2 separate regions of the Homo sapiens genome follow, and region 1 is linked to region 2. The links come from fine-mapping of genetic effects on gene expression. A gene starts in region 2. The other region holds a variant in brackets. All regions are shown on one strand. Distances are from middle to middle. Region 1 overlaps TBL1X (transducin beta like 1 X-linked). Region 2 holds the start of TBL1X (transducin beta like 1 X-linked).

Region 1 (5,371 bases), 250 kb before region 2:
AGGGTTTCACCCTGTAACGTCCGGCCCTTTTGGTCCCCCTTGGGGCAGCATCCCTTTCCCAGGTGTGTGCTGGACCTGACTCTCGGTCACTGTGAACCCGACCAAACACTCTAGGAAGGTCTGTCATGCTATGTCTGCTTTCAAGGTCACGTTTGGTCACTAAGACTTAGGCATTCCTCACCATGTTTTAAGAGCTGTAAACAACGTTGAACAATAACATTCCACAGGCCATTTCTTGATTACAGGGATGACTCTACCAACATGCCAGCAGCAGAGAGGGTGAGTAGTGGTGTGCAAATGCTGGAGGCTCTGAAAACGGCTGTCCATGGTGTTGTCCCGCTGAGAACGGGGATGGATATGAAGGGTGCTAGCTGCATCTCGCGCTTGGTTTTGCTTGCGGCCGCAGGCTGGGGAAGCCAGGGATGGAGCCTGGGGTCCGAGGCCTCCCAGCCCAGGTTTCTACCTAACAATTCCGACATGGTTCACATTCATCAAGACTAAAGCCATCCCTCGGGAGAGACCCTGGCTACCGACATTCATGTGAAGATTGTCTAGTGAATTGCTTGCGACACATCCCACCATCGCCATCCCACAGTTGTTACTGGTTTGTCAAGCATAAGCCATGCCCTAACGACAGGCTGGCCTTTGACAGCAGATGTTCTACAGAGATGAGTGCATTTTTATTTGGGTGGGGTAGAGATGGTGTCTTTTGGACCCCAACAAACTGTACTCTAAACTTCACAGAGTCCTTGGGACGGGAAATCATCACCTCATCCAGGGACACTGGCTATCTTCAAAGATGGGTGCGGCGACTCCACATCACTGTGACCTTCTTTGCTAAGTGTTTCGGAAACAGAACACGAATAAAATACTCATCTCAGAACCAGAGCACTTTTTGGTCTTCTGGGACATGAATAATTCACATACCCAAGTGGAGGCCAATCAATGATCTGAGAATGATCAACGCACCCTGGCTTTTGCAGGTGGTCCTGGCACGTTCCAAGTTCCACAGAAGCCCTGACCCTTCCCCGATGGCTGGGTTTTGGCTCCGCAGATGAATGCCACCTTCACAATAACACCGTCTCACTGCTGGAACACACACCAGATTGCACCCTACCCACTGCTGGTGACCCAGCAGCCCCCACGGGCTGGGCCATCTTCCTCAGCCCTTCTGCCCACAGGAAAACCAATGGGAGAAGAGGCCCTTGTCCTTTGGCCTTTTCCCCCTTGCTAATGACAAAAATAAGTCCGTGTCGGGTTATGACAGCAAGCAGATGGAGGTCACCAGATTCACTGAAATGAAGCTCTTCTAGGAACACAAAGCCTTGTTTAATTTTTTAAAAACAGCAAAAAGATTATTTAAAAAAGATCTTTCTCCTAGTCTTCTGTGAGACAAAGAAATTATAAAGATGGCAGAAATTATTAGCGACGTTCTACCTCTATAATTCACGTTCAGGACTGAAAATCTTCCTTCTGCATTCATTTCTGTCAGCGTTAGACTAAGTGACATGCGGGCGCCTCTATGTCAGCTCTGCAAGGACTCGCCAAGCCTGCTCTTGGAGAAATGACCATCGGTCGTTATACGGTTGTGGGAAAGATGTAGCCAACACGCCTAATCCAGCCGAGCAGTCGGTTTCGACGGCTTCTGCAGTACCTTATGGTTCTGCCAATGCTCCCTTGAGGCCAGAGGGCGCGCGGCTCTTCGCTGCTTTCCTGCTGGCTGCCAAGGTGCATACACACCAAAAGATGCGAGGTTCTTCTTCCAGCCGGCATGGCGGGGACCTCCCTCACTGGCTGCAGAGCAATCTCGCTGCTGACCCCGAAGACTGACCCTTGTCCAGCCAGAGTTTTCCTGACCACCTTTCCTGAGGCTGAGGGGAAAGCCAGGGGCTCCCTCAGGCCCTGCCTGTGGCTTCTTCGGTTCTTTTTAAAACATGAATCACACAAAGCTCTCTATGTCTGATGGCCATTTTAAGATTTTAAAATTGTTTTAACATAAAAATATTATTTTTTTTTCCAAAAATACTCCAGGCTCTTTCTCTTATAAGTCATTTTTTTTTCTCCTGTAAAAAGCCCCCCTGCCCTGCCTTCTTACATAAAGCACTTACTACGCGCCAAAGTGCCCTTGAGACCTAAGATCTGAAGCAACTATGAGAAAGGTACAGAGGGAGAGAGAGAGAGAAAGAGAGCACGCCAGTGAGAAAGCGAGCGCGAGCGCGAGCGCAAGGGGAGGAGAGGGTGGGAGAGGGCGGAAGGGGGAAAGCTGTCCGTGGGAGATTGTGTCTTCATGTCCACGGGGCTGCATCTCTTGATGGTGCACTGAAAAAGCAGAGCTCACCAGACAGAGTGGAAAGGCAGGGGGAGGGGCAGGGAGCAACAGAAGGAAGAGACAACAAGCCCAAGACAGCTTCCATCTCAGACGGAAGGCCCCCAGAAGATAGAATTCCAGCCGACTGAAAAACCACCCAATGAACAAAGAAGATTCTAGAAAATAGAAAGTGTTGGGATTACAAAGTTGCGCGTTTCATCGGTACAAACTGGTCTTTGAACCTCCTTTGTGAGAGCAAT[T/C]GTAGTGTCCAAATTGTTAGGGAAAACAAAAAAAAAAAATCCCAAGGAGGAGGGTTTTTCCCCCTTCCCTGTTTGGTTTATCACAGCATTTTGCTTTTTTTTTGGCACAGCTTTTTACGTTTCTTTCCATTCAGCCATCACAGAGCCTGTTCCGGGTGGAAACCAATCCACACGCCTCGAGCTGGTGACTTCCTCCTTCCCAGGCTGAATGTCCTCAGTGGAAACCATTCTATCCCCGTTTGATATGATTTGCTTCTGTTTTTGCTTGCCTTTTAAAAACTTCTTGATGAAGATTACGAAAACATATAGACTCCTGCGGCCAGAGACGAGTTGGTTTCAGAGTACACTCTAACGCAAGTCAAGTTCCTACAGTTTTGGAGAATAGAGCTGCAACCCTACACATTCACGGCTGGTCATTAGAATTCTTTTCTTTTTTCGATAATATTTTGTGGTTACTTCCGCAGATCCAAAACACACACCTGGAAGGAAAGATAAAGCACCTGTCATCTTGAGAGACAATACAAAGATGCCTTTAGAGTGAGAAGTCGGCAAGCTACGGCCCCCACGCCCAATCTAGCCCTCCACCGATGTTTGTCAGTAAAGTTTATTGGAACATCGTCATGAAGGGTCAGAGAAGCTCTCATAACAGACTGGCATCTGGACATCGGACCGAGCAAACTGAAGCAAACAGCACAGAGCAGAAAGGCCAGGTTAAGGGTAATGATAGGAATTAACAGAGTGGCAGAGGTCCCAGAAGGGACACCTGCAATCGTGGGGCAGATGACAATACGAGCCCAAGTACACAGCCTCTGACAACATTTGGGGACTACTCTGACCCTTGGCCGTTCAGCCAGAACGGCCGCTTGCCCCAGAGGTCAGGGCAACCTCAAGTCCAGGGGAAAATAAGAAATCCAGATGCCCCATGGGAAGAGAAGAGGGCCCAGGAGACCTGCAGGATGGCCACCAGAGGCCCGGGCTTCTCAGCCACAGCATGGGTGACAATTGTGGCCACCCTGTGCACAGTAGGAGGTTTAGCAGCATCCTCATCTAAGCACAGTCACGCGTCACATAATGACGTTTCCAGCAACAACGCACCGCACAGACCGCAGTGGTCCTGTAAGATTATAACCATATATCTGCTGAACCTTTTCTATGTTTAGATAGATCCGGACGCACAAATGCTTACCATTGTGTTCTGGTTGCCTACAGGAATCAGTATGGTCACCCGCTGTCCAGGTTTGTAGCCTGGGAGCAATAGGCTGTACCACACAGCCTCGGTGTGGGACAGGTATTATCATCTAGGTTTGTGTCAGTCACTCTATGATGTTCAGACAAAGATAAAAGTGCCTAATGACACATTTCCCAAAACGTTCCCGTCATTAAGCGACACATGACTGTAGTGACAACCTAAAATGGCTCCAGATATTGTCTAATGTCCTTAGAGGTGCAGAATCACCCTGGTTGAGAACCACCAATTTGACTGAGAAAATGTTGACTAGAAGGACACTCTGGAAGGGACAAGGAGAAGGCCATTCCCAGATGTGGTACCAACTCCGATGGGATCCAGCCCAGAAGCTTCCTTTGGCACTGGGCTAGGCCCTTCAGGACACGAATGCTGCACACGCCCTGGAAGCTCACTTAGGCATCAGCTGCCCCCAACACCCCACTCCCCAGCAAACCAGAGGTGTTGCTTACAGAGCCGTCGGACGCGCTGGCACCCACTTTGTCTCCTCGGGCGTTCCAGCACACCTCGAAGATGCCGCCAGTGCCTCGGTAGCTGTGGACAAGATTTCCACTCTGCAAAGCAAAGCAGCTGTCACTTACAACGCAAGGGGCGCCTGCGACAGATGCAGGTGTGGAATGTGCGCTCCTCCGGCCCTGACGTTTCGTCATGAACATTTTCAAGCATGGTGAAATTTAAGGGTTTTCAGTAAGGACTCTGGGGGCCATGGAGATGTGCCTCTAGGACTTCCCACCACGAGGAGTGAACCTGATTACTTATGCCTGCGGAATCTGCCACATTTGCGTGGATTCTGAGGCTGCACCCAGCTGAGGACTGATGGAGGCGGGAGACCATGGCAGTCACCTGCTGAGACTCAGACTCATCTGGTGGGTAAGTGGCTCATGGACTCTCCATCAGCACGACCAAAACTTTCTACAGACCTGTAAGGGCCATCCCTGACTCTTCCTACCCTTCCCGTCTCCTTCCCAGGGTCAGACTGGCCTTATGGTCTGAATTCTCCCTTCCCCCTACCTTCCTCCCTGTTTCCATCACAGCTCTTTCCCCCAATAAATCTCTCGCCCATCTAATCCTGTTCTGGTGTCTGTTCTTTGGAGGACCTGAATGAATACAACATAATGAATACACCCACCCCAGTAGCAATTAAATTGACTGTAATTCATGATTAAATGTAATAATATGCCATGACATTAAAATGTACGTATTTTTGGACATTTGAAAGAAGAAATGCATAATATACATGTAATGGAAAACACCACAGACCATTGGTTTCCGGTTTAAAACAGCATTAACTTGACAAATCTAAGAGGTAGGGGAAGTTGAGGCCTTTGAAAGAGTTGAATAAGGCCAGGCGAGGTGGCTCACCCTGTAATCCCAGCACTTTGGGAGGCCGAGGCGGGAGGACGGATTGAGCCCAAGAGTTCAAGACTAGCCTGGGCAACACAGTGAGACTTCGTCTCTACAAAAATTAATTTTAAAAAATAAAAAAGAGAGAAAGAGTCGAATAAGCCTTCACTCATGATTCACTATGGTGACAGGCAGGAGAAATCTGAACACCGAGAC
Region 2 (5,371 bases):
TAACAGTTGCAGGAAGGGAAATGTCTCCAGACATTGGCAAATGCTCCCTTCAAAAGTGGGGGACAAAACTGTCCCAAATGAGAACCATTAGTTGGCTGCAACATTCCAGAGCTCAACGTTGAAAATACTGTTCCAATAAGCAAGCATCTTTTCTACCTTCATTTCTAAAGCTTCCCTTTCTCCTGAACCCGCCGCCTATCATGCCCCATCTCAAATCTCTCTGATCCCATCGGACAAGAACAAACCTAGACAAGAAAAGGAAGCAGTACCCGACTTCCTCTGAAAACTCAACATATTCTCTCTTCCATCTTAACTTTAAATTTGTTCCAATTCCATTTGTAACGGTTTCCAATTCACTTCTGCAACCTTCAGGCATGCGGTGGATTCTCCCTAAATACTGGATGGCGATGGCTGTGTGGGAGGGGGCCAGCTTGGGAGGCGCAGGCATCTGAAGTCAGGCTCCCGCTGGCCAGGCAGGCAGCAGCCCGGCGGACTCCTTAACGGCTGTCTTTCTCCCCTGGAGATCTGAAACGTCTCTCCTCAGCCTAGGCTCTTTGCCCTTTAGAAACATGTGGACTTCTTCGGCCCCTTCCCATATCCAGCTTTTCTTTTGGTTCTGGTGGGTTTCATGTTTGCCAGTCTGGCCAGCATGGTCCATGTGGTCGAGCCCCACAGAAAGTGAGGGCGGGAGTGGAGGGGGCAAGACCGGAGGTAAAAACTCGAGTCCAGTCTCCGGCTAACTAAAAATAGTTATGGGGGAAAAAAGTTTATCTTTCCAACTAAAAAAAAAAAAGTGTTTACAATATGCCTTTAGTGTTGCTTCCTGGGTGGAACTGATTTTTCAATGCATGTGGTAGTGAAAGATTAACAACTTCTCGGATGTAGCATATTAGGTTTTTTTGCTTTTCCTAAGGGAGGAAAAAAAGCAAATCCAAGGCATCAGGAAAGCAGTGGGAGGATGGTCCTGCCTCGCTGGGCAGAGAAGCTGTGCTGATCAGCTAAGCCAGGAGGCCCACAGGGCACTGCTGCGGGGCAGAGCACCGGAATCTGGACGCCCTGCAGAAAACTGGGAGGGGGCCGGACCCAGGTTCTAGCGGAGGTGTGCTCCTATCCAGCAGGAGTAGATCGGATAATCTGAATTCCTGACCCTCGGGACCTGCTGGAGATGGCCTCCCTCTGCAGGGACCATTTTCCCGCCTCTGTTCGTCACCTTAAAAGGTGAAAAAAAATCTTCTAACTAAGATGATGTTGTACAGAACCAGTGGTACTGATATAATTGATGGGAAAACTCCAGAAATTGAAACATTCACTTCTAAGTATGTCTACAATAAAGTTATTTTTGCAAACTGTTTCCTCTTTAAAACCACTGACAGAGAGAAGTTCTCTGAGGTAAAGGGGCAAAATGCCTGAGAGTTGGGGAGCGAGGGTGGCAGCACTACACCACAAATCTCCATATTTGCCCTACAGGTGTGTGTTCTACTAAGGGCTGGAATCGCCTTAAGGGCCGGTGATCCAGTGATGAACAACTTTTGTTGTTTGCATTAGTTACCCAGCTTGGTGGCTTTCCACAAAAATGTGCAGCACATTTGAGACAGGACTACCCTTTAAAATAAACGCGTCATACTCAACGTTCTTCTGTATTTTATTTTTCCTAATTACATCTTTTCTAGGAAGGACTTGTAAACTTTTCATAAAATCGTCAAGTGCCACTTCCAACACCAAAGCCACTGCCTGGAACCTTAGCAGGGAGGTTGCCTTCCTTCCCCCTCGCCTTCCAGGTTAAACCAGGGACTGGGCGATGTTTCAGGAGAGGAAAACATCCAAAAGGCAGGTCAAACCACACATGACAATGCAAAGCAGAAACAGTTGCAAATACAATAGAGGGTAGGTTTTTGTTTCTTTTTAGGTTTTGCTCCAGAACATCACTGACTCGAGAATAAACGTCAGTCCCTACCTTTGTGGAACGTCCAACGCAGCTGGCTGGGGGAACACGAGGCCTTGCAGGGAGCGAGCCCCGGCCCCGGTCTGACGGAACACAGGCGACGCACGTGAAGTCCAGGCCCTATCCCAGCGCAGGCGGGCCTCCAGCGACCCACAGTTGTCACATATCCGGCCAGCGCCGACTCCCGAAGGCGCACTCCCCATACTCCACTCCGAGCACCGGTCCCATCGTTAGGGAAGGTCCCCCTGGATAGCAAGGCCGGGGCCCAGGATCTGCGAGACCCACCCCACCCGCCCCGTCAGAGCCCAGGAGCAGCAACAGGTCTGCGCTCTCCCCGGGCGGCGCTCTGCAGACCCTCGACGGGCCAAGGGTGCCCCCAGCCCAGCCGTGCGCTCAGGCCGGGGAGATGGGCGGAGGACTGGGGCTCCCGACTTCCTTGACAGTTTCTGCGCGTCAGAAACTGAGCAGACACGGGGCCCGCGCCACCTCGCCCGCCGCTTGCCCCACTCCGCGAGGCTGCGCTTCCACCCGGGTCCGGGAGGGCCGGCCCGCGTCCCGGGTATGAATGGGGCTCTTCTCCCCAACAGCGGGGAAATCCCGCCACCGCCCTCCACCCCGGTCCCCGGAGCCCGCGGTGGCGCAGGTTTGCCCAGCAAGCCCCTGAATCGGCAGACAAAGGGGCACCGGAGGAAAAGCCGAGCGCTTCCCTAAACTTACCGGCCACTTCCCCCTCCCCAAAACAAAGGAGCCCCCCGCCGACCTCCGTCTCTCCCCGCAAGGCGCGCCGGCACTTCGGGGAGCGGCCACCTCGGGGTATTGTTCAGGCTCCTGGGAGCGCGCCGCACCCCAGTCCGAGCGCCGCGGGGACAGTTGGCGACCTGCACCTACAGGAGTTCCAGGGGCGGGTGGAGCGTTCGGGCGCCCCGAGCCGCCGGCCGGACCCTGGAGGGTCAGCGCGGGACCCGCCTCCCCGCAGAAGTTTGCGGACCCCGCGCCCGGCCCGCCGAGCCCTGCGCACTCACCTCGTCGCGAGCAGCGCAACTTGTGGCGGCGCCGCGCGCCCGGCCGCGCTCCGAACCTCCCTCCAGCCGGCAGCCTCCGAGTCCCGGCCGTGCGGCGGCCGAAGAGGGCCCGGCGCCCCGGAGCAGCCGCGCGCCGCCCCCGGGCCGCCCCCGCCCCGCCGCCGCCGAGTCCCGGAGAGAGCGCGGGCGCTGGAAAGTTTCGGTGGCGAATGGCGGCCTGAGGGCGCTGCGGCGGCGGCGGGGCGGGGGCGCTGGCGGCTCCTCGCTCCCAAGCGCGGAGTGGGGGCGCTGAGGCGGGCGCGGCGGCGGCGGCGGCGGCAGCGGGAGAGGGCGGGACAGCGGGAGGGACTGGCACGGACAGTGACCTCCACGGGGAGCTGCCGCGAGCGCGCGGACCCCAGCCAGGAGGACCGCCAGGGGTCCGCCCCCGCCGCCGGCCCCTCCCTCACGGCCGTGGGAGGGGACCCGGCGTACCACCCGGCCCCGCCCCTGCGCCCCGGGGGAGCCGCGTCCCGAACCAGCCCCTCCCCTACGAGGGTAGGGACTCCGGCCCTGCCCCTCCCCCGCGGCTCCTAGTGGGGACCCGCGTCCCAACCCAGCCCCTGTCCCACGGTCGGGGGACCAGCGTCCCTACCAAGCCCGCCCCGCTCCCCCACGCCTAGGGTGGGTGAGGGGAACCCGGGCCTCTCCCTAGTTGCTCTGGTCCCGGTCCCTTCCCCGTGGCCTCCGTGGGACTGAGAGGACCCCAGGGCTACCCCCATCACATCCCAAACCCAGCCTTTCCACGACTGCCTCGAGGGGACGGGAACCTCGGCCACCCCCTCAGTTTCTAGGGGGCAGGGGAACCTCGATCACTGCTAAAGTGTTACCCTCCCCCACCCCAAAAAGGAAGCCACCCGGCTGCCCCAACAGAACCCCCTGCCACCTGCCCGATGGTGAATCTCCCTCAAAATCGGCGTCTTAGAAGACACCCCAGTAGTCTTTACCCCAGCTCAAAAAGTGGGGGTTCCGGCGGAGCCTCGACCTTTGCAAAACACCTCCCAAGAAGAGCCAGAAATGCTTAGGGACAAACTCAGACACACAGGCATAGGCGCCAGGAACTCGGGTGTGGGGGCTGAGGAGGTTGGGGGGACCTGGGCACTCGGGCCTCATCACTCCCACCCCAACCCCCCAGGCATCAGCCCTCTGGCCCTTGCAAAGTGCTTTATGTTGCAATGGCTTACACGGCCTGGCCCCGGTGTACCTAAGTCCCCAGCGCTCCTTCCTCCCCTCCACGTAGGCTACTCCCAACCACTCGCAGCCTTAATTCAGTTAAACAGATCTCCACTCCCCCTCCCCAGCACCTCTGGGGTCAGCCTCGTTGAATATTTTTCAAATATTCTTGCCCCTTCCTTTACTATATAATGAGCTTCGTGCTAAGAGCCCGGTACACTCAGCAATCTAAACTATAACCTCACTTGCTCTTCCTCGAACTCTAGACCATTTGTTGTTCTGGTTGTAGGGGGAGGGGGACCTAAGGTGAGGTTTTTGTTTTTTTGTTTTTGTTTTTGTTTTTCTGAGGAGTCTCGCTCTGTCGCCCAAGCTGGAGTGCAGTGGCGCGCTGTCGGCTCATTGCAACCTCCACCACCCTGGTTCAAGCAATTCCCCTGCCTCAGCCTCCCGAGTAGCTGGGATTACAGGCGCATGCCACCACGCCCAGCTAATTTTTTTTGTATTTTTAGTAGAGACGGGGTTTCACCATATTGGCCAGACTGGTCTGAACTCCTGACCTCAGGCAATCCGCCGGCCTCGGCCTCCCAAAGTGCTGGGATTACAGGCGTGAGCCACCGTGCCCGGCCGGAGGTGAGTTTTTAAGAGGCCGGTCCTCCACCAAAACGGCGGACCTCAAAATTACCCTGCAAAATATTGCTGTAAAACGTCAATGATGCAAAACGACTGTTGCTACACCATCATTAGAGGACATCAATAAAAAAATACACACTTACACAGTCTCCATAATTGTGAATCAGCAGAATAGATTGTGTCTTATTATGTATCAGTTGCCATTCAAGGCCCCCCAGAAGGACATGGTGGGGCCTTCCCTTGAGCCTGCCCTTCGTTGCTCCTGGGCTCCCTGGGCTTGTGCAGACTGATGCTGAGGTATTACATGCAATAGAAAAACGAAGGGTGCAATAGAAAACCCGAACGAGCTCATGATGCAACCCTGCCCTGGCTACACGTGCTTCCCTTCCCCCACCGCCTGCTGGTGGGAGTGCTGCGTTTTTTCCGCCTGTAGGGTCACATTGTGGTTGATTGATTCTCCTTTCGCCTTGCTCAGTCATTCAGATTTGGAAAGTAAATAACAAGTTGACATCATTACAGCTCTGGGCTTTACGCGGACGCAGCCCTCGGCTACCGCACACTCTGG

What was found. PIP is the estimated chance that this variant, and not a neighbour inherited with it, causes the effect.
Region 1: its variant is fine-mapped to the expression of TBL1X in whole blood (TOPMed, PIP above 0.99). The same link has a PIP of 0.9 or more in blood mononuclear cells and monocytes.

The regions. Positions count from the first base shown.
Region 1 is chrX:9,713,896-9,719,266 of GRCh38, reverse strand. TBL1X (transducin beta like 1 X-linked) reads right to left here. Exons shown (of 18, transcript NM_005647.4): 17 at 4,264-4,365; 18 at 1-3,047. The coding sequence ends at 3,021. Among named protein-coding and RNA genes, the nearest start is that of GPR143, 49 kb to the left of the region's middle. The variant T/C (reference allele first, on the strand shown) is at 2,569.
Region 2 is chrX:9,463,041-9,468,411 of GRCh38, reverse strand. It overlaps TBL1X (transducin beta like 1 X-linked), which reads right to left and starts at 3,354. Exons shown (of 18, transcript NM_005647.4): 1 at 2,965-3,354. RefSeq lists silencers at 2,379-2,528, 2,829-2,968, 3,089-3,668 and enhancers at 3,899-4,098, 3,926-4,754, 5,129-5,371.